Linked DNA regions of Homo sapiens. The protein of the gene in region 2 purifies or fractionates together with the protein of the main gene of each other region. This does not show direct contact. Each region holds a gene or a part of one and is shown on either strand. Other genes may lie near its edges. The genes, in order: SRPRB and RHEB.

Evidence for each region.
Region 1: the proteins of RHEB (region 2) and SRPRB purify together in Homo sapiens (affinity purification with mass spectrometry; 2 studies listed by BioGRID and IntAct, with this or other methods). This does not show direct contact.

Annotation. Positions count from the first base shown.
Region 1 is NC_000003.12:133,815,815-133,825,156, reverse strand, and holds the end of SRPRB (signal recognition particle receptor subunit beta), read right to left. Parts: intron 8,280-9,342; coding exon 8,225-8,279; intron 5,605-8,224; coding exon 5,391-5,604; 3' UTR 3,665-5,390; downstream 1-3,664. UniProt on the Homo sapiens protein: Component of the signal recognition particle (SRP) complex receptor (SR). Ensures, in conjunction with the SRP complex, the correct targeting of the nascent secretory proteins to the endoplasmic reticulum membrane system.
Region 2 is NC_000007.14:151,463,502-151,480,752, forward strand, and holds the end of RHEB (GTP-binding protein Rheb), read right to left. Parts: intron 13,915-17,251; coding exon 13,832-13,914; intron 8,105-13,831; coding exon 8,048-8,104; intron 7,941-8,047; coding exon 7,893-7,940; intron 7,152-7,892; coding exon 7,070-7,151; intron 3,711-7,069; coding exon 3,618-3,710; 3' UTR 2,511-3,617; downstream 1-2,510. UniProt on the Homo sapiens protein: Small GTPase that acts as an allosteric activator of the canonical mTORC1 complex, an evolutionarily conserved central nutrient sensor that stimulates anabolic reactions and macromolecule biosynthesis to promote cellular biomass generation and growth.

The DNA.
Region 1 (9,342 bases), on a different chromosome or scaffold from region 2:
CCGAGGACAGTGAGGCATGTCTGAGCCACTTGAGGGGCAGCTGAACAGAAGGATGTCTGTGTGCATCAACCGAGCAGATTGTGCGCACACTCGTTTCCGAACTGCCTCTCCCCAAAGAATGTGAGGCATTGTCACCTTGTTACAGCTATGTGAAGCAGAGCTGTCACAACTTTTCCTGTCTACAGGCAGGAAAACCAGGATGGAGAAGGGCAACTTGCTTATTAAGATCACCCAGCAAGTTAGGAGTGATCAGAACCAGTGAAGTTTCCATTTTTCATCCATTGCTGCCCTGTGTGTGAACAAATGTGACTCCATATTTATTACACAGCAAGGACTGCTGTGTGTGGGTGTGTTCCTCAGACCATCTCTACTCTTTTTGGTTAGGACACTAGGTTCTTCCCAGCATATGAGTGAGAATATTGGTGGTATTTTGGGCTCCTCTACTGCACAAGGGCCAGTCCCCAAGTCTACTCTGATTGATTGTCATGGGCACCCACACAGATCAGGACACCCTTTGAATTTTTGTTTGACATGAACTATTTAGGTGTTCCAAAACCTTGGGATCTCAATGTGCAAACTCCTTGGACTCCAGACCCCTGTCTGGTTGGCACTCCCAGCAGTGTGTGGTTTCATCAGGAAATCCTTGCAGCAGGGGTTTAGATGGTTCCTTCAGGAGGTGGGAAGCCTCCATAGCATTGAAGGCCAGCCTGCATCTCGCGGTGTGTGTCCACTTCTCCCCTCACTTTCCCCTCACCCATCCCTTTAAAGTGATTGGCTGTGAGGAGCACAGAGGGTGGCAATTCCATCTGTTATGGGCTCAGAAGACATAGCCGCCATGTTGATTTCACATTAAACTGTGTAAAATGTGGAAAAGACTCAGCATGTTGGTCAAACAATAAACTGTCCTAATTCTCAAAACAAAGCTTCTTGTCTGTGTTTAAGTGGTGCAGTCATAAATGGGGGGGTTCAAAAACAGTTCCTGAAGTGTGTGCTCCACAGAGTCCCTTTTGTCATGCCTGGGTGGTATGTCCACTACCTAAAGCCCTTTGCTGCTTTGCTTCTTCCTCCTACTGGTGGAGTTGGGCTGTCCACCAACTCCGAAGGGGTAAAGATGGGACACACTCATGAGAGTAAATCCACACGCATTCCCCTAATCTCCATTCTGCTGAAAGGCTGATGGGAAGGGAGCCTCCAGGCAGAACTGAGTCAGGGGTACGATATATTCCTTCATCCCCACTCTGCTTGCCATGGCTAGGGGATTAGGAAGGGGGGAGAGGGTACAGGGACTGGATCTCTCATGCTTCTGGTGATTTTCAGAAAGCCATTTAAAGGCAAGAACTTAAGGTGAACTATAATGACCTTTGACAACATCTAGCTGCCATATTCCATCCCCAGCCCCACACCACACCAGTTAGGAACATCCCTGAGTGGCCCCTCCAGGTCTCAGTTATCTCCAGACTAAAAGATGCTCAGAAAGCCAGCACAGTCCTGGGACCAATCCAAAGAGGAACAAAGGCCAAGATTAGGTAAATTGCCCTTGCCCGGGAATCTCACTCTTCTTCAAGTCCAACTTCACTAATTACCTTTCCTTTTAAAGCTTATAAAGGTTCCAGAACACCCTCCAATCTGCTGCCACCTCAAGGAAGCCATCTTTGATTAGAAGAGACATTGAGGCCAGGAGTTTGAGAACAGACTGGCCAACATGGTGAAACCTCATCTCTACTAAAAATTAGCCAGGAGTGGTCCCACAGGCCTGTAATCCCAGCTACTTGGGGAGGCTAAGGCAGAAGAATCACTTGAACCCGGGAGGCAGAGGTTGCAGTGAGCCGAGACGGCACCACTGCCACTCCAGCCTGGGCGACAGAGTGAGACTCTGTCTCGACAAAACAAAAAAACCCTTGAAACAATATATTCAAGTCAACAGAACATGGCCATGTGCCTCACACATCAGCATCATGGGAACACTGGCACTTCAGAGGCCAGTGGAAAAGTGGCAGTCCCGTTGGGGCTGCATGGCTGGCAGCTGACCACAAGCCCACACAGCGCTTAGGAGTCAAGTGCAGCAGTGATGGAGCTCACACTACTGAGAGAGCAGGGAAACCACACTGAAAGGGCACGTTTCTTAACCTCAGAATGGGGCTACTAGCCTCTAAAGCAGGAATTGCGTTTTGTTTAGTATTTCCATGGTCTGCTGCAAGGCGTGGCCTTTACCCAATGGATAAATGCGTACAAGGCTCTTGTGAGCAGTCAAGTTTCTCGAGGTTTACAGTTGAAGGGAAGTGGGATTGTTTTCCTGCGCATTTAAATGAAGGTAGGTGGGTGATCACCTTTCCTTAAATGTGTGAAGGGATGAGATAAAGAGATAGGCATCTTAATTGCCACTGATGGCCTTCAGGTGAGGACAGGCATGAGCCAACTGAAGCTTTGACAATTGTGCTGAACCCAAAACTTCAAAAACAAGAAAAAACATAGACTGGCTGAAATGATCTAAGTCAACAGAGCATGGCCAGCGCTTCATACAAGGCAGGACCACAGGGGAACACTGACAGCCCAGGAGGCACTGAGACAGAGGCAGTGGGAAGAAGTGACAGACCCCAGGGACTCCCCACCAACAGCAGCTGCTGTTGATTAGGAACCCCCAGTAGACTGTCAGGCACCTGGTAGTGGAGAGGCTACCAAGGCCCGGACTGGAGAGGAGCCAAAGGAAGAAACAGTGCAGTGCTTAGACCCCTCTGGGTCTGCCCGTGTCCATACCCACTAGGGAGATTCCATTCCAGAAGTGGACATATTCACCAACAGAGTGCCTGGGGCTCACTCATCACAGCTGCCCCTCCATGAGGGCATCTCACTGCAGCCTTAGCAGGGAACAGGGTCATTTGCATTAGGCAGCTGCTGTCCTAGGAGGTCTCGGTGTCCATACACTGCCATGTTCCCAAGGTGTTTCAAGCTCAAAAGTCTCATCTATGTCATACAGTCGTGCCTAGTTGGCCCGTCTCCAAGACCTGACATCCATCCTTCTACTCTGGCCACACCTGCCCATCTCATGAAATGGGCCTACTTTAGTCAAATGCCCTCAGGGCCACAAAAGGGCACCACCTGAGTGGAGAGAGCACATTTGACCTCCCATCAAAACCCTTCCCAGTTCCCAAAGACTAGTCACCATGACCTCATCCTGGCCCAAAGCCACAAGAACGGAATGCCTGCTACTAGTACAGGAGTAAGAAGCAAGGTCAGAGTTCCCATGCCTGCTGACTTGACCCTGTCAGAAAAACTCAGCAGGGTGTGTGCCCCAAGAGACTTTAAAAACAAAGTAAAGGCACACGTGACACTCCAGGCCAGATCATCTCTAGGGGTGCCATGCGACTGACAAAAGACTTATTAAGCATGCAGATTCCTGAGGCAATACCAGACTTGCTATTGAATCAAATTGTCTGAGAGTAGGGTCCTCAAATCAGTTTAACAAGCATCGCAGGTAATTCTGATGCCCACTAACATTTGAGACCAGTGTTCCAGATAGAATTATCCTTTTTTGGAAGACCTTCTTTAGGCCTTGAATCAAACTCAAACTTGCAGCCCTTCTTCAGTCACTTTTTCTGGTGTGCTGCTTCCTCCAATAAAGTAAGATATTAACCAGAAAAAAATAAAAGAGGCTGAGAGGGACACATGCCTCTAACAGAAGCATCAAGCCACTGACTTTTATTCCCATGAGCTCCTACTATGATGACATAACATGTCACATTTATTGCTCTTACCTACTTCCTAAGTTACTGCTTGCCTAATAAGGAAAAGGGCAAGAAATAAGAGTCCAAAAGACACTCAGAACACCAGCAGCAGCTTTCAAGTAAGGACTCAGGGTCAGGGTCTCACAACTCCTCCATTTCATGTTTCATTTACATTGTCTTCGTGCTCCAGCAGCAAGGCTGACATGTGCTTTGGGGTAGGAGCCTGGAGTATTTCTGCCAGATGGTCTGAGGTGACGTATACTCCTAGAGCCCAAGTGACCACCAGAAGGGACATGTGAGACAGCAGGCAGAGGCCATACATGGAGGATCACACTCCCTCAGACGTCATCAGCCCCATGCTTTATCCTTTGACTCCCCCTGATCCTCAAGGCCAGGTGGGGTGCCCCTGCTGCATGCTCCAGAGAACTGTGGGCCTCTCCTACCATGGCTCTCAATGCACTGTTCCATAACTGGCTTCTCCCCTGGACAGAGCCACCCTGGTCTCCTTGTAAGCTTTAGTTGGGCTTGTCCCTGAGTGTGTGGGGTAGGAATAGGAGTGTGTTCTTGTGTATGTTGCAATCTTTAGGCTCAGGAGACAAGGAGTTAGACCTGAGTCCTGACATGTGCACTCATTTGTACTCACCATTACATTCTATTTAATTGCTTTGAGCCAGACAGGCTGTTTTCTTTACCATGAAATATACTAATCATTCAAAAAAGCCTTGTGTTTAAGAAGACAGCAAAAAACATCACTTCAAAAAGGCAACTTTTTTTTTTTCTTGGCATCAATGAATATGCACTTCAGAAATCTACAGAGAACTTTTTTCACTTTGTATTTGTTCCACAGCATTCTAGCCAGGAGTACAAAATAGGAGCTCTTCAAGCAGCACATGAAGATGGCCCAGGAGCCTTCAGCCATCCAGAGCAGCAGAGCAGCACCTAAATCTCCACACACTTCCCAGTATAACCACTAAGAACACACTAGACCCTTGGCATTAGGGGATTTATCATTTCCAGTTCTATTATCTGGGAATGACTCCAAGGGTTTGTGACAAGCTTTTGAAACGTAAGTGCTAAGACGAGTGTGGACAAGTCACTGAGCTAATGAAGAATAGACCCACTGTCTGCTTGGCTCTGCTATTTTGTACCTGTCTTCACATGTGGGGAAACTTCATAACTGTGCCCACAAATCAGAGAAATTCGCAAAGGACTAGACAATGTATTGCCTGTGAACTTCAGAGGCAACTGGAAATAGTGCAACTGGAAATCAACTAGCTTCATACATAGGCGGATTTGTTTCCAGGGACCAAAAGCACAGAAGATAAGAAAACTTTTCAGGTGATGGCCATATTCTCATCATATCCTCTCTGTGTGGAGTCTGCCTGTTGTCACAAAAACCTTGACCCTACATCAAGTTACACCTTAACAAAGGGAAGATACAGGCATCAGATAAAAGGTACTTGTTTGAAAGGCAGCCATAAGGGAGAACTGAACTTAAAAAAAAAAAAAAAAAAAATTCCAAGCTGGTTTCAACAGTACTTTGTTTCCAGAACAAAGAAATGTTTCTAACCACATCTTGTACCCCTTCCTCATCAACTCCAGACTACCACAGACCTTTTTCCAAAACTGTGTGTCACACATCCAGGTCTTGTGCTTTAGAGCTGCCTCTCAGGCAATTTTAGCCAGCCATTTCTCCAAGTCCTGGATGTCAGCAGAGCCCACGTCCCCTCTTCCACCCTTGGCACTGCACTCCAGGAACTCCACTTTGAGGGGCAACTGTGAGAATTCAAACTCTTTGCCTTTCTTCCCCAGCTGAGCAGGGGCAGTGCTGGAACTGTCCAGTGTGCTGGGGGCAGCAGAACGGGTAACTCGTAAGGTGTTGCTGTGGGGCAAAAGGAAAGAAGTCAGGAGGCAAAATTTTTATACAGCAATTAAATCATATTAGTTTCTAAACATTTCAGCACTCATTTAAAACTTAACTATAGAATTGCCAATTATGCTATTAAGATTGTTGAATAATCCTTTGCATTTATAAGTCCCTCTCTTGGACAGAGAGGTGAGGTAGGTGGGGCGGGCTGGGGGGGTCAGACCTCACAGGGCTAGAAGGCAGGTCAGCAGTAGACCAGGTCACACCAACTTTCTTTCAGCCCAAGGCCCCCTTCTAAGAGGATCTACTGAATGAAGCCGTCTAAAAATATATTTTTAAAATACATGCTTTAAGTGTTATAAAAACATAAGTTTCTGAAAGTTAAGTGTGGGTAGATAGGGTATGTATTTTTATCTTGAGTCTATTTGGATATGGAGTTTAGAAATCCACCAACTCCAGATTCTCATATCTAACTAGGGCAGAATTACTATTATCCAACCTCTTTAACCACCAAAACCTTCCCAATGTAAGTCCCCTTACTGCCACCTGCTGGCCCTAATAAAGGGTGCATAAGCAACACTCATTTGTCGGCCTCCCCTTCCCCTTTCTGCTATCCAGAAGCAGAGGAATACATGCTGCCAATCTTCTTTCTTACAAAATAAAGCATTTCTTGTTCTGTAAAGTTGCTTCAAAATTAGTGAAGAATCCACAGGCAAAACTAAGCAATACCTTGTTTAGGAAGGAACACACACACACACACACACACACACACACACACACACTGTAAAAGTATTTTTAAAAAACAATACAAAACTGGATATTGCTGACCTCTTGAGGGAAAAGCTTTTGGGGAGAAACAGGGGCCTTCTAGGCATGGTGGTGAGTACATAGGTATTCATTTTAATATTTTTTAAGCTTAATGCATGTGACATATATACTATTATAAGTAAGATATTTTACAATAAAAATTTTTTAAGGAAAAAAGTAAAACATGTATTCAGCTTTTGCCACAAGGCCATGTAAATATAATATACCGTGTTATTGAGAGACTATGAAATGCCTCTAAGCTAACAGGGCCTAATTCTCATAAATCTGAGATTAAAATTAGTCAGATTCCGAATTTTAACTGATGTTAACCTTTACAATTTGTCAACATTTTGTTTCACTGCCTTTTAAGAAAGCATTGCCTTTCAATGCTTTTAAAAAAGGATTGGCTTCTGTATTGTTTTTCTCTAAGTCTATAGAGTGAAAAGCAAACAGCCTATGGAAAACATGTGTTTTAACCACGGGAGACTTGGACTGTACTGTTAAAAATAACCCAAGACTGATTCACAAATAACATTATGACAGTTTTGGCTTCCCCAAAACAATTCCCAACAATTTCAAGAGAATTTTTAGAAAAACCCAACCATCCAATTGTTCCAATGTCCTTATTAACCTAATGGCAGCAACAGATACAATCCAAGAGAGTGAGCATCAAGAGCACAGGAGGACAGGGTGATAAACTCGCAGCTCCAGACGGGAAAGGAACCACTGAAAATGGCATAGGCAGGGCTGGCAAAATTGTTCTGCAAAGAGCCAGAAATTAAATATTTTGTCGCATATTTTTCTTCTGTTTTTTACCTGCCCTTTAAAAATGTCGATTTACTCTTGGCTTGCAGGCCCAGGCAGGAGTTTGCCAATGCCCGAAGCTGACTAGATTCTACCAGACTCTAAGCTCCTGAGTACAGGAACACATTTCCTCCTACAGCTGCTCCCAACTGCAGTCTTGGCATCCACTAGATGCACTACAGGTGCTTCTTAAATGAATAAGGGAGTCAGTAAGTCATAGTGGGGAGAAAAGTTTCTAAAAGTTGAATTTATACAGTTTTTCCTCATCAGATCCTTTTCAAGGCCTTACACAAAAGCAATAAGAAAACATAACTTGCTTTACTATAAATGTTGATCATTTCTTCTACACCAGCTTTTGGCTAGCTCTTACAAATTGGCATAACGCAGAAGACATGCTAGATGCCTTAAAATTCAAAAGCTTATAGCTCAATTTACAAACCTTGAAACACTCAAAGCAGGATATATAATATTGCCAAGTATTTTAACAATCTAAGAAGCTATAATGTAGTATCAAAGACTTGTAGTCTTCCTCAGTGTTCTGTTCTTATTCTGTCAACAATAATTTCCAAAGTGGCTTTTAAATGTTTTAATTTCTTTTTTCCTGATTCTCAGTTTTTATTTTTTATTATTTACATGCATCCTTAAATACCACTTCACAGGCATTATTGAGTGGTGAACAAACACTTCCACTCACTGAAATAACACCGTTCTCAAGTTGGCATGTAAACTTTTTTAGCTTCTAAAACCTTTCAACTATAAATGATTTAGTAACAATGGTAAAATAAATTAAGTTTATGGTTTCAAAAAAATCTTCTTTCCATGAAATTTTAAAATATCTATAAGCACCCTAGTAAGTTTTTGTGATTCCATTATTTTGTAAATTATTTAACAAATATTTATCACACTAATCTTCAGTCTATAATTGTGATAATCACATAAAACCAAACAAAAGAAACATGAATATGCTGCTTACAGTCTAAGTGTTAAGATATATAATTAACCAACAGGCCTCTTTCACACTTACAGTTCTTTCTCCAGCTGCTGTTGAATTAACTTTGCTGATTTTGCCATTGCAATATCTGTAAAGAAATAAAGACACTGTTGTAGTTTAAACGAGAATGAGTTTTTTCCCCAAGACTTCTTACACAGAAGGAAAATTCCTATTTAAACCAGTAAGTTTTTCTCTTTTTTTAAAAAAAGACCTTTTATCACTAGTTCCTTCTCTATCAAAGTAAGCTTTATACTTGCACTAGGGGCTTTCCCAAGATAATGCTTATAAACATATTATGCTGGTGACCCTAAAACTGACTTTAGCTTTCCCTAAAGTTCTCCACACCTTATAGACCTTTCAATTCAAAACATATAAGTTTACTCAGTTTAACAGAAAGAAAACCTACCAGTGCTGTGATTATGAGAAGTGCCTTCACATGCCAAAAGACAGTGCCCTATCTGTCATTTTAAAGTAAACTTAGCATGTTTCCAATTGATCCTAAGACGGTATGTTTAAAGCATTAAGTGTACTAAAGGTAAGAAACAAGCTCTGGTTTGGCACAAAGCCCATGGCAAATAAACAATAACTCCCTTCCTTATATTCAATCAGGGAAATAAAGAGGTCAGGTAATGACGCTAATTGCATTCCCAATAAGGCATTATCAATATTATCTGGTCACTTCTGAGAAATGCCTTGAACTCTTCATAGAATCAGAATTTCAGATCTGGAAGAGACCTGAAGAGATCCACTAGTCTGTCTTATTGTACAGGTAACGGAACTGAAGCCCAGTTTTATTGGGGATTACTAGAAAAGTTTTCAATGGTTATCAGGTTAAAAGAAAACAACTTCAGCAAACTTCCCTTGATAAAATGTGCTGTACAGTAAACTTGTTTGAAAGCAGAAACTCCACCCTGCAAAACTGTGCATCTGATATCACATATTGTCAATCTGATGAACTTAACTTGGTAAAGTAAAATAATTTATAATCAGAAAAAACACTGTATCAAAGAAAAATCAGTTAGCAGTCACTTGGTTATCATTCCTTGGTCTTCTGGTTAGAAGACTGGTGAAAAGGTAGGAGTAGAAATAAATTTTAAGATTAAAAATCCTTCAATTTATAGTTCTTTACAGCAATTGTATCTCATCCTCAA
Region 2 (17,251 bases):
GAGACAATGTTGAGATCTGAAGGGTTAGAAGTCTCGGGAAGGGGTGTCCCAGGCAAAGGAAAGAGCCCCAGAAGCCCCCATGGCTAAGAGAGCTTTCTGGCTCTGGAAACTGATCAAGGCCACTAACTAGACAGGGTTGAGCTAAGCAGCAGCAAGGTCACTCTGAGCCTTGAGGCTGGGACACACGGATTTGGCACAATCATCACGGAGGGATTTTAAGCAAAGGAGCAACATGATACTGTTTTTACAAGCTGGCTTTGGCTGAGGTGTAGGGGCTCAGAGGGTGTCCCATTGCAGACCAGGATGCAGTGGAGACAAAAATGGACAAAACACAAGGTAGATTTTTGAAGGCAAGGCCCTTAGGATTTGTTGATGGATCGGATGGGAAGTATGAGGGTAGGGATAAAGAACAGCTCCCAAATTGCTAATTTTCATACGGACCCAGTGAATAATGGTGTCATTTCCTGAAACAGGAAGTCCAAGAGAGGACCAGGTTTCCAAGGAAAATCAAGAATTCAGTTTTGGACATAGTAAACTTGAGATGCCTATAAAACACCCAAGTAGAGAGTCTGTCAAGATCAGCCTGGAGCCCAAAGAGGTCAAGGTGGGAGATAGACATTTTGGACTCTTCTGGTTACACAGAGTTACAGCTATGCTTGAAGAGTATCAAGGCAGAGGGTGTAGGCAGGAAAAAAGGTCTGCTGAGAGGTTTGATACAGAACAGCCAAGGAGACCAATGCACCAGCAGAGCTGGCAGGCTGACCAGGAGATGGTGGGGTAATGATGACGCAGGGGAGACGGCGGTGAACTGTGTGGAATGCTACCGAGAGGTCAAGAAAGCAACCGGAAACTACTAGATTTGGTGACAAGCAGGTGAGAAGCCATTCAGGCAAGAGCATGGCTGGTGAACCAGTGGGGAGAGATGTCCAGAGTGGATGGACAATTTAGTTTTAACAAAATTCTATCACACTAATTTTAATTTGTAATGTGATTTTATAATTTGTATTTTAAAATTTAATTTTGAACTGCAAAATATTTTGGATATAGTTTTATAGTTGCACTTCCTGTATTTCAATAAATCTAAGACTACACTTACGTACCACAAAGAAAAGCATTACCTTTTCAACACAATTTTTTTTTTTTTTTTTAAGAGACAGGTCTGGCTATGTTGCTAGCTGGAGGGCAGTGGCTACTTACAGGCACACTCCCACTACTAATCAGCTCAGGAGTTCTGAGCGCTGTTTCCAGGTTGGATGGCTTCACCCTTCCGCAGGCAACCTGGCGGTCCCTAGCTCCCAGGTCACCGTATTGATGCCGAACTCAGTGTACACACAGGATTAGCACGGCATACTACAGCCCAGAACGCCTGGGCTCCAGCAATCTCCCACCTCAGCCTCCTGAGTAGCCAGGACTACAGGCACATGCATCATGCCCAGTGACAATGTTTTATCACTGATTATAAGACTAATGCTCTGCCAGGCGCAGTGGCTCAGGCCTGTAATCCTAGCACTCTAGGAGGCCGAGGTGGGCGGACCACCTGAGGTCAGTTCAAGACCAGCCTGACCAATATTATGAAACCCCGTCTCTACTAAAAATACAAAAATAAGTCGGGTGTGGTGGCATGCGCCTGTGATCCCAGCTACTTGGGAGGCTGAGACAGAATTGCTTGAACCTGGGAGGCAGAGGTTGCAGCGAGCTGAGATTGTGCCATTGTGCTCCAGCCTGGGCAACAAGAGCGAAACTCTGTGTCAGAAAAACCAAACCAAAACAAAAAAACAAAACCACGAATGCTCAATCAAGTAAACGAGTCAACTGTCTTCTTGGGATTGCTGCCTTGGGCAGCTGGACGGGGGCCTACCCTGTGTGGCATCTCCAAGGTTCAGCGCAGGATTGACGGCACACAGGGGTGCAGGTTTCTCTGCTGTGTTCATGGCACTCAGAGAAGTGTCTGGCACATGGCAGGTCCCCAGGGCATATCTGAAGGAATGTGTGCACTGCGTCACATAAAGAAATGATACTATGCTCCCTCCACTCAGGAGGTCCAGTCCTTAAAGGACCACCTCAGGAGAGTTCAGTTGAACTTGAGTTTCTAGTACAATATGCTGTTCTAAGTTCCATTTACATAGACATAACTGGATGGACTAGGTCCCCATTTTCTGTTCAGTGCTCTTACATTTTTAGTCCTAAGAATAACCCTGGTAATAAGTAACAATACTGTGTTGTCAAAATTTAAAAGGTGATTATTTGGCCAGGCATAGTGGCTTAGGCCTGTAATCCTAGCTACTCAGGAAGATCACTTGAGCATGAGCCCAAGAGTTTGAGGCTGCAGTGAGCTATGATCTGCACTCTAGTCTGGGTGACAGAGTGAGACCCTGTCTTTAAAAATGTATTTGGTGGAAGTCTTCTAAAGCAGAAATTTCATCCTGGAATGACAAATGAGGCAAAAATATTTAAAAGATCCAAATTAATGGCATGTGTTTTAAGAACATAATTTTTCATTAACAATCAACTGCAAAGCAAAACTATATTTTATTAATAAAGTCAATGGTAACATTTGCTTACGTATTAGAAATAGCCCTGTGAAATTTTAGCTGCAAAAGGGAATCGTTTAAAAAGCACTGCTCAACTCCAAGTTTGACTTACAGACAAGGTAACAGCCACCAAACAAATGAAATCCCTCTTCTCCTTTACAGCTGCTCCTTGGACAGAGGGAGGCCCGTCATCTGGGTCTGAAGGAGGCTCCCAAGACTCTGACACAGAACACTAAACTCCAGGGTGTTCTAGGACAGTGACAGGCAAGGCTGTTCTCAATCATCTCCTGTCTGACACGGACATCGAGCTAAGCTATGAGCAAGGGCGAACAATGCCTCTCAGCAGCTCCTCCTCCTTGACCAGGCTCCCGACCACGGAGCATTTCAGTCAAGGTCTAGGGATTTGAGGGTGGAAGGAGAGAATTTCATCACTGGGGAGGAACTCCCCTCACAGACCCCCCAGGGCCACTCAGCTTCAATCAGCTGTAACCCAGCCCCAACATCTGCAGGCCACTGCGCAGGGAGTCCACGGTCAGCAGCCACCTCAGCACACCTCCTCCTGTGGCCACATCTTCACTGGTTTCTGGAATCCAACCTGGGGCCTTCCTGAAGCCAAGTGAGAAACTCAGGACAAGGCTTCTCTTCTTTGAAAGCCACATCAAGTAGCACAAAGGACTGAGGTTTGCAGCTATTTTATTTACAAGTATACATTTAACACAATGAAATAAACACTGATATACTGAAGCCTAGTTAATAGTAGTGTAACAATATGCATCATTTTGATGATTACATTATTTTAAACAACAAACTACACTGAAAAATTAATGCCGATAAAATTCTTGGTCATAATATTAAGAAATACAATATATAAATTGAAAATATGATTGCTTAAAATTTGAAAATGGAAGTGAACTCATTTGGACAGACTCAGAGTTAACATAATCTGAAGGGAGGGGAGCTCTGACCCAAATGATATCTTTCAGGTTAACAGAAGAAAAAAGAAGCATAGTTTATCTTCAAGGAGAACGGGCAGTTTGCTTCTTCAGGTAGAATATATTCCCAGTGTCCTCAGGCTTTGCAGCAGAATCACATCACCGAGCATGAAGACTTGCCTTGTGAAGCTGCCCCGTCCATTTTTTCTGCCTCCAAAATTATCCTTCGAAAAACATCCACAGCAGTCTGAAAAGAGAAAGAAACCCAATCACAGTGTTAGTGTGAAGCCGAACTCCGAGAGTATTTTACGGACTGAGGAGGGCGTGCCGCCTGCCCTGCCCTCCTACTGGTGGAGGAGGAGGGGTTCTGGTGAGCCCCAGAACTTCAGGGCCCCCCGACGCCCAGTAAGGCCACTGTCCACCCCTCCTGACCCAGACCATAACCAGCCTCCGATTGTGCTTTTGACCCTGTTTCCTTCAGGCACCAGGAGACGCCCGAAGAGTCCTCACTCCCAGACTCACCACCATCTCCTGTCCCACTCCACCCCATGACCCCCACCCCAGTGTCCTCTGACCTCAGGGTCCCTCTTCACTTCTGGCACTATCTTTCCTCCTTTCCTACGGGACATACTCTCCCAGCAGCCCTTGCCTCTCACATCCTTGACACTAAGAGGCCTGAAGTGGGGAAGGCACCCTCCGTGCTCCTGAGATGCCACGATGCCAGCCTCCAACACCTCTGTGGCGTAATTCTCGGTCATTTCAATCCACAAACTGCCCTCCCTATCTCCTGGCCTCTCCTCTCCTGCCCGTCTTCCTGCCCTCAGCCTCAGCCCAGGGTCAACCCCACCAGTCCTTCACCACAGACAGGAATCATGGCCACTTGGAGCAGGAACTCTTCCTACACTGAGTGGGGAGGAGAACTGTCAGACCCTGTCCTTTATTTTTCCTTTTTTGTTATACAGATTGGAGGTTTCTATGTTGCCCAGGCTGGCCTCGAAAGCCTAGCCTCGCCTCCTTATGCACCAGGACAACAGGCCTGAGCCACCGTGACTCCCAGACCCTGTCCTTGAAATGCAGTCCTGTGGTCATGAAAAACTGCCCCTGTTCTCAGAAGCCCCACAGGAAGTACCCTGTTCTCCTAATCACCAAGAATCCCCCTCCCCCATCACTCCAGTGACTTCCACTATCCCACGAAACCAGAACACACCAACTGCCAGCGTCCCACCACACCACCTTCCCAGCTCTTTCTCTAGCTATCCTGAAGCAACAATTCTCAGCCCCACAAGGGGCCTGATTTGTTGACCCTATTATTACATCTCCCCTGTCCCTTAACCACTTCTTGCTGCTCCTTTCCCTCTCGGTCAGCTCAGACTCAGCAGGCCACCATGGCGCCACTGTACTTCAACTCCCTTCCCTACCAACTGTCGCTGGCACGGTGCCCGCGGCCACACCGTAAACGCTGCCCAGGGAAAACACACACCGCTCACTGCTGACCTCACACCCATGACCAGGAACCTGGCGCAGACACTTGGTGCTGCCTAGCCACCCGCCTGCATCCCTGGATCTGGGCACTCCCCAGAGAAAGCATCCACGCCTTGTCCCTTCTCCTCAAATGTTCCCCGTGCTTACGCTCAGCTGAAAACCTTGTTTTACACACTTCACTGGAAAACAGAAGCCACATTCATGAAAGAACTCCACATCCTCCATCCACCAAGCTGACCCACCCACTTGAATGTGGGCTCCCATCCTCAGCCTTCTGTCCTGTTGGTATGAATGAGGCGTCTGTCCTCCTAGTTAACTGAAGCCAACCCCAGGTCCCACCCCGCTTGTCTAATCTAGGTCACCGGCTTCAGATCACCTGATTGACAGGAAGCAGTGTGTAGAGAAAAAAGGACTAGATGTGGATGAGATCTACAATTCAGTCCTAGTTCTTATACCACGTAAGGTAGTGGGTGATCTTAGAAAAGTCATTTAACTTCTCTGAAACTTAATTTCCTCACTTCTAAAATGAGGCGGTTTAACTACATGATCTGAAGGATACAGTCCATAGGCACTCAATGGATTTAATTCAATTTTTAAAATATAGGTATCTCTTAACTATCTCAATTCTTATTTGAATTCTGTGTATACTCAGAAACTGAGCTGACTTCGATAAATCCCTTGCTATCTGGAACTTGGGAACGAATTACACACATCTGTTTAATCAGTTTTTTTCATCCGCACATAAGAGGACATAACCACATGGATTCACTATCCCTCCATATCCCAACACAGGACAAAGCCAATTTGACTATCACAGGATACTTGGGCTGACGGATAACCCACTGTGCTAAACATTATGAAGGATATTTATATAAATGATACTGACTCAGATCTCAGAACAAATTAAGAGGGCTAAGAGAAGAAACCACAATTTCTTTCAGCTGGATGGATCCAGAGGGGGTCAACAAGAAGGTGAAATCTAGGTGGGGCCTTGAGGACTACAAACCTCCGTGCTGCGGAGAGGGGCGGGGCAGGGAAGGAAGAGTGCCAAGGCTGCTGGCGCCCGGCCCTCCCAGGGAGGAGGCACCACCCTACTATACTAGAGTTTCCTCAGAGAAATGAAAACCAAGTCATCTTACCTGAGGATCAAACACCACCACATGTTGAAAACACATTCAAAATATAAAACCCCACATGAACCTAAGTAGATACTTAGAGAAGGGCTATTTTAAACCGGAGGGGAGCATGAGGAAAGGTGAGACATTTTGAAAGTGGGGTGGACAGGAGATGGTGTGTTTAAGGAAGGGAGCAGTTTGATGTGATGGAAAGTACAAGAACGTGGTGAGAGAAGAAACTAGAAAAGAACAAATTATTGACTGCATTCAGGACCAGGCGAAGGGTTCTATAGAGAAGGGGCAGTTCACTGACAGTTTCTGAGTAGAGGATGATACCATCAGATGTGTATCTTTAGAAAATTAAGGGCAGCAAAAAAAATGTATAGGTGAAAAATGCACTGGGGGCGGGAGACAAGCTTGGTGCCGGGGGTCTAAATTAGAGCAATGGAAGAGAAGGGCTCATACAGGACTGTGAAGCCTCCGGAGGCAGAATCTACATCCTTCCCAGAACATGCCTTTGAAGGCACATCTGCGGGGTGAAATTGGTACTAAATGCTTATAAGATGGTTCTTCATCATTTCTATGTTAACAATTAACACGTACGTCTGACCCGGTTTCATCTAACAGAAAAAAAGCCAGGGGGTGGGTAGTTACAAAATTAGTACTAAAGTGATATAATTCTTTTTTTTTCCCCTGTATGGACTTATTTCTGTACCAGCTATTAATACAAACCAAAAATATATGTTTACAAAAGGTAGTATTTCCTTTACTAATAGTTTCTGTTTATCCTACAAATATCCTAGGTTCCACTGTAAGTAGAATACTGACTGAATTTATAAACACCTAAGTAGTATCTTCCTAAAGCAACACAAAACTTGGTATTAGAAATGGAGGAAGGCCAGATGTTACACAGGAGTGATCAAGACAGAGGTCAAATGCCAACTGCAAGGAACACATCCCTGCGACTGATGAGAACGCAATGCAAAATGAGGTTTATAGAATCTGTTACCTGATTTTCTTTAGCAGAAGATTCCAAAAAAGCTGCATTCCAAGATTCTGCCAAAGCTTTCCCTTCTTCATAACTGATCACCCTAAAGAAAAAATAAAATTCTAGTTAAAGTACTTTGCTCTTCATTATATAAAACATGTATAATTGATTTATGAAACAGGCTCCATTTTGGTCAATTTCTTTCTCATGAAGCAGAACCATGCCCTGGCCTAACATTAGCATCAAGAATGTAACACAGGAGTGTTTTAATTACGCCTGAGCTGGGGAACAGAATAGACATTGCTTTATGGGATTATCCATGCTCCAGCAAACCTTCCAGCTCAGAGAACATGATCTTATTTTCCAGTACTCCCGTATCTGTAACAATTGACTATTTTACAGCTAGGTTGTAAGCACCCAAGGCCAGGGGAAATTGTGAAAGAGCCTGAAAGCTCAATTCTCTTGCATGCAGGCTGTAGAGTCTCTTCCTCTCTGACATGAAGCTGCCTGGGCAGGGGACATCTGCCTCCTTTGCTCCTCACTGTAATCCCAAACCCTGGTACTCAAAAACCACTTGCTGCATAAATGAGCACTATGTCTTTTTAGAATTTGCTTTATGCAAAGTGGCAGATAACCTAAAGGTAGTTTCCTATAAAGTTTGCTCTCTCTTTTCTAGAGGAATGTGAGATTTCTATTCCACTTTTGCTTCTGCTGCACACGACCATAACACCTCTGAACGGATAAAAATGCTACAGCTAAAAATATTCTTGACATCAGAACAATAATTAAAATGATACTTCAGTGACTAAATCATCTTAGATTTGACTTTATAAAAGCTACATACCTTTCCATATGCAGGTCTTTCTTATTCCCAACCAACATAATAGGTATTCTATTTGTAAGAAAAAAAAGACAAACCAGTAAGTGCCAGATTGTATTGCTCAGAAGATACTATTAAAAGAAGTTTCTCTAACAAGCAGATAAAATGGTACTACTTACTGTACTTTCCCCACCATATCCAACAATTTGCCATGGATAACTTTAATCACTTCAAAACTATAAAACAAAAAGTATAAATTAGACATCCATTTTAATGTTGAAGTTTTTAAATGTATGTTATGTTGCCAGCTGGAAAAATGTAAAATGTCACAGACTCACCATTTTAACATAACATAAAATGAACACAAAGAACTCCTGTTTTTTCCTAGCAATCCATTCACATGTGCATACATCTGACACTCAGCAACCCTGACTGAGGATATTCAAAGTGAAACAGGTAAGGCATTCAAACGGAAAGCCTACCACTGGGCTGAGAAACCACATAAATGCAAATTTTAATCACCCAACTCATTCAGCAAAGAACCAACTGTTTACATTACAACTTGAACAGCTTTTCCTAGAGTGCCCTAGTACATTCAGCCTGCTCCTGTGTTCTTTCCTAGGTACATACATTCTCTGGGTGATGCCAGTATCTCTTGGCTTTCAATCAGATCAATGAGCCGATGACTCTAGGATGGAGGTGGCTCTCACCGGGAAGGGGATCTGAGATGTCATAATGATCACTTGAAATCTGCCACAGCAGGATTATTTATACCACTGACTGCTGGCAAATGGCCACAAATCATTTTCCACCCTCCCCCAAAAAACCCATGCAAACATCTGCCAGCACATCACTGGCTCTACTTTCAAATCCTACCTAGAATCTGACGGCTTCTCACTCCCCTCCACTGCTGCCGCTGAGGTGTGAATTCCTGGCCCAAGTCTGCCTGCATCAGTTCCACAGCCCCAACCCTTCCCCGCCACCCCTGCTCAGCACAGCAACCAGAGGACTCTGCTGCAGCAGATGGACGGTGCCTGGTTCAACATCCTCTGATGGGTGGCCATCTTTACTCGGCCCCAGTGACTCTCAAGCCGCAAACTTCTGACCTCGTGATCCGCCTGCCTCGGCCTCCCAAAGTGCTGGGATTACAGGCGTGAGCCACCACACCCAGCCTCAAATGTCACTTCTTACACCTCTTCTGTTTACCCTAAATGACAAATTTCCTTTCCATTTCTTACCCCTTCCGTACTTTATTTTTCTTGGCAGCATGGTCACAGACATCCTATCTCGCATGTGTGTCGTTTTACTGTTTGTCTCCCACACCAGAAATAATAGGTCCGCAAGGGCAGGGATTTGTCTGCTTTGTTCATGATTGCATCACAAGCTTCAGAATAAGTTAGCTTGTTGAATGAATTACACACTGTGCTATTTTAAACGATGTGTGCTGTCATTTGATAAAAACAAAAATGAAATTTAACCCCCCTACAAGCTCGCTGTGGGTCAACAAATGGGATATGGGTGTCCTAAGGACCTGCGGTTGCATTACAGAACCACGGTTTCCTCCGCATGCTGTATTTGCCTATCTTTAAAAGTGTCGCCACTTGGGCAAAAATACAGTACCCTGTCACGTGAGAAACAGCTGAAAGAACTAGGACTGTGTGGCAGGCAGCTTGGAGCCGGCTCCCAGATCTCCTGCTCTCCTAGTGGCCACACTGTGTGTCATCTCCCTGCATGGACCTAGTGACGTGCGTCTAATGAACAGAATATGGCAAAGGTGATGGAATGTCCCTTTTGCGGTTAGGTTATAAAAGACAGTGGCTTGTCATGCAGGAAATTCCCTGGCTCTCTTGTGCACCTGCCCCAATGAAGTGAAGCACCTGGCAAGGAGCAGAGGGCAGCCTCAGGCCAGCGGCCAGCAAGGAACTAAGAAGCTCAGTCCAACAACTTGCAAGAAACTCAACCCTGTCAAGAGCCACGTGAACACGCTGGGAAACATCTTCCCCCAGGCAAGCCTTCAGATGGGACTGCAGCCCCTGCTGATACCCACACTGTGGCTCTGAGAGACTGAAGCAGAGGACACAGCTAGGCCACACCCAGATTCCTGACCCACAAAAACTGTGAGATCATAAATGTGTACTGTTCTAAGTGGCTAAATTTCTTGAGATCACTGATTTTCTGAATCAAACTGGTTGATTCGGAAAGTTTTACTGACGTATTTCTTGGATATTCATAAATATTTGTGTATTCAGCATACAGATTTCTAAAAAACAAAACACCACTCTTCTCATACTCCCTCATGTCTCAAATTTGAGAATGCTGATTAAACTACGAGCTACTAGAAAAAAAAGGCATTATTTAAAACAGCCCCATTTGTTCCCAAACCCACTTATGCCAGTTAAATTCATCATAGTCATAATTTATGTTGCAAACTTTTGAAGTATGTGTAGACAGAGTTTTGTTTGTCTGAAAACTAGAAGTTGAATACTGTGAGTTGATCTACTAAAAACGGTGCTCCTTAATAAGGTGTGCCAAACCAACTGAAAAAGACTGGTGGGGAAAATCACAGCAATCTAAATAGTTGAGGTGTAGACTGTTTCCCAAGCATCTCACTCGGAAGAAACCGAACCAGAAGTCATAATGGACAAATCGTGGATGTAGTCATACTGAACAGCAGTGGGTGAACTCATATTCAAAGATGACAATTTGAAAATTTCACAAGATGAGTGACTGAATGTATATTTATGCTTTAAAACAAAACACTGGAGATTGACATCACCTTTCCGATTTTTTTTCCCTTTAACCAGTGTTGTTTTTTTGTTTTTTTTTTGAGACACAGCCTTGCTTTGTCGCTCAGGCTGAAGTGCAATGGCATGATTTCAGCTCATGATACAGTCTCCGCCTCCCAGGTTCAAGAGATTCTCCTGCCTCAGCCTCCCGAGCAGCTGGGATTACAGGCACCCGCCACCACACCCGGGTAATTTTTGTATTTTTAGTAGAGATGAGGTTTCACCATGTTGGCCAGGCTGGTCTCGAACTCCTGACCTCAAATGATCTGCCCACTTCGGCCTCCCAAAGTATTGGGATTACAGGTGTGGGCCACTGCGCCTGGCCCTTAACTAATGTTTTAAAGTAAGTAACCCGGCTGCCTCAGATAGGAGAGATCTACTCCTATATCAATATACCCAATTTACAGGCGACAAAGGTACGGTGAAGTAACTTGTCCAAAGTTGTTAGTGGGGATAAATGAAAACCCAAATCTCACATCTCTCAACTGCAGGTTTCTTTTTTCCATTTCTAGAAATTATGAAATAGGATGTATTTTCGCTTTATTTACTCAGAAAGAGCAATTCTACAGGGGTTTTATGATATAAAGGAATAATGTGAGACTTCTGTTTTATTTCACAAACAATGAAAATGGTTATTATTTAGATAGAGGTTAAATTCAATAAAAAGGATTAGACAATTCTGATCAACAAACTGGTTGATTCAGAAAGTTTTACTGACATATTTCTTGTATATTCATAAATATTTGTGTATTCAGCATATAGGTTTCTAAAAAACAAAACACCACTCTTCTCACACTCATGTTTGAGATTTGAGAATGCTCATTAAACTATGAGTTACTGAGGTAAAAGGCATATAACAAAAGAAAACACACCCATTTTAGTAAGGAGAAACTTGGTCAAAACTTGCAACAGTGCCACTGAGAAGACACAGTACCAAGCTTTTTGTCCTCTGCTTTGCACTAGGCCAGTGTTTTCTCAAATACATAAGGTCCTTGGTGAGCACACTTTCATATTTTTAATCCAGCTCAATGTATTTTTCAATTTCCCCAGTGGCACATGCTATGTTTTCAACTTGATTCTATAATGTCATCTAATTTGTGCACACCAAAAAAGAGACTTAAAAAAAATCAGTGGATGCACTAAGAAAATTTTCTACCTACTACTTTAATGCCTCAAAGTAACAATTTGTAAAGTAACACCAACACTGTTTTCTAAAAATCAGCTAGGATAAAATTGTACTTACCAACAACAAAACAATCTTTGAATCATGTTTTTCAAGTAAATTAGTAAAATAATGGAAATTCATAAACAAACATGAACTTCCAACATTCATTAGATTATTGGTACACTAAATTTGTTCTGGACAAGGCCTTACACGTGGCAGTATATACATTTTAAAAATATACAACTGAAATTAAAAAAATCTTTGTATAAAAATGGCCAATAGTTTTACTATTTAAAGTGCTCTTATAAGTCAGTAAGAAAATGATCATGTTTCCAAATACTAAGTACACAGTGGTTTTAAGCATAAAATCCAATCCAAGCATTGCTTTCAGTGACAATATAAATAAATACATTAAACAGGAAGAGAGATATCCATCTATCATTGAACATGAAATATTATAAAGCCATTTACTATTTCAAATACTAGGTAATATGGAAAAATATATATTACATGGTAAGTAAAAATATAAAAACATGGAAAATATAAACCATAAAACAGCATTCAGAGAGCAAATAAAAGGATGTTAAAACAATCCATGCAGACTAAAACAAAGACCAGAAAAAACATATACCAAGATATTAACAGTATCTATGCTTAGGTAATTAGATTAAGAATGATTACCCTCACTTTCTATTTTTCACAGTTCCTCAATTTTCCTTAAGGAACACATAATTCTGGTACTTGGTTTTGATTCAGGTGTAAACTTTCTCGGGGATTGACAGTATGGGGTCTGTTTATAAGAATGGCCGAGAATGGTACTCAAACATTTTATAGCTAGAACTCAACACCCTAAAGTATGTTTCTCTGCCACGGAGAAAAATGTTAAACAACACACTCACAGAGCAGCAGACTGAATTTTCACTGGCAGTGGAGTATGTGGGGGTAAGGAACCCAGACACTGGCCAACATGGCAGCCTCCAGCCACATGTGGCTACTGAGCACCTGAAATGGGGCTACTGTAACCGAGGGAGGCTTAATTTTCCATTTTTAGTTAAACAGCCACCTGCAGCACAGAGAGCAAACACTTCTATCACCGCAGTAAGTTCTATTGGACAGTGTCAGCCTTGACTGTGGAACTGGAGAGATGGCTATGAATCCCAGCAATGTCATTATGTAGCCCTGGGCAAGCTGCTTTAGGTCTCTGTCACTCAGTTTCTTTCCACGTAAAGTGGGATATAAAACATCTCTGATGAAGGATTAAGGTAATGATGAAATAAGTAATGTATCATATGTAGGCAAAGAGAGTAGCAAACTCCCTAACATGTCGCACACACTCAATAGATGCTACGTAGCCACCAAACGCCCTCCACTGGCACTGATATTTTCATAAAGTCTTCAAACATAAGCTGTCACCAATGCCCAGAGCTCCGCTGCTGTATACAGCCAGCTGTTCTGTTAACAGACACAGACCACTGCTCCTCCTGATAATACATGCCATCCCCCGATAAGAGGAGACATGAAATACGTAGCTAGAGGAACCGATATCCATTCTTATTAATAAAAATAGTGGCTTTGTTTTTATGTAGTAAAGTCAGACTCTATTACCAAAAGGTCTTATTTCATAAATTCAAAGGATAAGATATTGAACAAACCCAAACCCCCACATTTTATTAGAAAGTCTATTTCACCTTAATATGGTAAAAACACACACAAAGTAAAATTAATTTAGGCATTTCCCATTTCAATTAGCAGAAAAGCTTAGATCATGCTGAACCACTGTTTTTCTAGGTAGCTTGAGGTAAGAAAGAGCCTTTTATCCTATTGGTGTAACTAACAGAACATCTAGTGGGCCATGTTTCCCAGCAATCCAGTTGCTCCACGAGAAAATCACTAAAAAACATGTAGCCTAATAATTCTAATTGTCACTATTAATAATTCCAGCACAGTCCCTTAAAAGGATCAATGTTATCTATGAGTAGCAAATCAACTCAAGCAGGCAGCAGGAGTCTTACCTTTTGATTGATGTAACAGAATACACAAGAATATAGCCATTAATATCTATGGAGTATGTCTGAGGAAAGATAGAATATTCATCCTGTGGGGAAAAAAAATTATCTTTGAGTAGTCTTCATATAGCATCACAAACAAACTTTACCCAAAGTTTTTCATGTATTACCTGAAGAAATCAAAGTAGACGCAGAGTGGATTACAATATTATGCCAGAAACAGCCTACAAAGTGAAGCTTTAAGAATGGCCTGGAGGTGATAATGTGGTTCAAGCCAATATTTAAAAATGACTAGCTGTTCTAGAACTTTAGGGGAAAGTCTGATGACCTTCATAATTTCTGGGAGAAGAGGATGGATGGAACACAAAAATCATTGGCTCTGTGATCTCAAAACAAGGGATGAGCATCACTAACTCCAGAACCTTCTAGACCTCAGGACATTTATAAATCCTGCTGATTTATCCCATAAATCTGTATTTTTATATTTGAAACTGGCATATTATTTGATTTATTCTCTGCATGTCAGTCACAATGACCTGAGCTTCAGTCTACAGGTTGCTAGAGGGGTGCCATCAGCATCTGAAGGAGAGAGGGAGAGAGGGAGGGAGGTGGGGGAGAGAGAGAGAAACAGAGAAAGAGAAAAGAGGATCAAAACACCAGGTTCAATTGAGGTATTCAGACTTTTGGGGACCAAGAGAGTTATTTACTGAGCAACTCTAGGAATTAAAGAGAAAGGTACCTATTACGCAACAGCACAGTAGTCTTTAGTTTTATAAAGCAGCGTTATGACACTTTGCTTTATATACGTATTAAAGCATACAGAAAGTTCTGATGTCAGTGCAGTTTTCAACAGCACGCGCCACTGTCTGGTACGAACGTTTCATTCTTAGTTGAAACTAAATTGTCAACATAACACATGTCCTAAGCACTATTATGGAAAAATCACATCATGGTACCAGAAGATTAAGCAGCAGTCTATTATTTTTGTAAACTTATAGTATGGTTATAACCACTGTTTATGACAGCCCAGAATTACTGCCCTATGGTAAAGTTCTTTAAAGAAAAAAAAAAAAAGAAAAGAAAAATTAAGTTTTATTATAAATTCTTTGATATAATAAATAAGATTAAAAACAAAATCCCAAATGATTTTAATCACTAGCTCAGCTAGAGTAGGTTCAAAGTTAAAATTCTGTTTTCCCTAAAGGGAAACTGTGGAAACATAGAAAAAAGAAGTTATGTCTAAGAAGCACTGAGTAAAAAACTACCAGTTAGAAGGTATAATGGAGGAAAGAGCCCCCAGCTGATATAATTCTGATTTTTTTTTTTGAGACGTAGTTTCCCTCTTGTTGCCCAGGCTGGAATGCAATGGCACTATCTCAGCTCACTGCAACCTCCACCTCTCAGGTTCAAGCGATTCTCCTGCCTCAGCCTCCTGAGTAGCTGGGACTACAGGCTACACCACCACACCTGGTTCATTTTTGCATTTGCAGTAGAGACAGGATTTTACCACGTTGGCCAGGCTGGTCTCGAACCCCTGACCTCAGGTGATCCGCTTGCCTTGGCCTCCCAAAGTGCTGGGATTACACGTGTGAGCCACTGCACCCAGTCTGATTTTTTTTTTTTGAGACAGTCTCATTCTGTCACCCAGCCTGGAGTGCAGTGGCAGGAGCTACTGTGCCCGGCCTTTAAAGTCTACTTTCTGAGAAAGAATAATAGCAATATAACAATATAATAGCAATTGGGAGGGCAGCTGAGTAGAAATCATAAAGCTCTCATAAGTAATACTGTACTGGCTCACAAACAGAACAGACTGAAAAATCCAGAAAGACCTGACAGATATGAGAATGAGGTACATGATAATATTGGCATTTCAATCAGTGAGGACCAAAAGTAACCCTCAACTGAGTGTAGGGACAAGCCCAGAGCCACCTGAGGATGAATGGCTAAGCTGGAACTCCAATTCACACTTTGGCAAAAACATATTCCAGAGGAAGCAAAGATTTAAAGATGAAAACGATGCGTATGATAGATGGGAGAGCTTAAAATACATTATCAGTTAAAAAAAGATTAATAAGGCCGGGCACAATGGCTCACGTCTGTAATCCCAGCACTTTGGGAGGCCAAGGTGGGCAGATCACAAGGTCAGGAGATTCATATCATCCTGGCTAACACAGTGAAACCCCGTCTCCACTCAAAATACAAAAAAACTAGCTGGGCGTGGTGGCGGGCGCCTGTAGTCCCAGCTACTCAGGAGGCTGAGGCAGGAGAATGGTGTGAACCTGGGTGGCGGAGCTTGCAGTGAGCCGAGATCGCGCCACAGCACTCCAGCCTGGGCGATAGAGCGAGACTCCGTCTCAAAAAAAAAAAAAAAAAGATTAATAAATAAATTCAACTATGTGAAAAAGTTCTTCATGGCTGCAAACCCCTCAAATAAAAACCATAAATAAAAGACAAACTGAAAACAAAACTGTGCATCTCAGATCATATACAAAACGCTAATTTTCTTCACATATCAAGGGGAATCTCACATCAACACGCAAAGACCAACCACCCAATAGAAAAAAAATGGCCAAGTACACAGACAGGATAATTCATAGGGGGAAAAATACAAACATCTTCTAACATAGGAAAAATCAAAGCCCCTCCTAAGAAGAAAAGTGCATTATTAAAAGTACACTGCATTTTTAAAAGTACACTGCTTTTTCTCACCTATCAGATTGGTAAGTACCAAAACGTTTGCTAACACATAGTGCTGGTGAGGGTGTAGGGAAATAGACACTCTCATTCACTGCTGGCAAGAACATGAACTGTAACCCTATGATAGCCCACATCCAGGAAGTTTTCCTATGTGCATTATTACCCTATGTCTAAAACAACGTCCGGGATGTTCATTAAGGGACTGCTGATGGTAGCAAGACCAGCAACAGTCTAACTGTTGATCAGCAGTTAACTTAGGATATATATCCCAACAACTGGATATTACGCAGCCTTGGGGGAAAAGGAGGCCATAGGTATTGATATGGAATAATCTCCAAGAGGGAGATGTATTACTTTTTGTGTAAAAAGGAAAAAAAACAAAACAAAACCCAAGCTTAAAACTATATTTGCATATTCATGTATCAAGTATCCTAGAGGCATATACTAGAAACTGGTAAATGTGGTTGCTGGTGGGGGTGGGGGGTTAGATAGCTAGGGTAGGAACGTCTTAAGTTTTACTATTTACACCTTTTGGCACTATTTATTTTTGTACCATGCGCATTACACCTATTTTTTAAAAATTAAACTCAATTTTCAAAAAAGCAAATTTGGTTACATTATAAGATGGATTGTCATTGAATCAATTTTAATTATTATTAATTATTATTTTTTTTTTTTGAGACAGAGTTTCACTCTTGTTGCCCAGGCTAGAGGGCAATGGTGCAATCT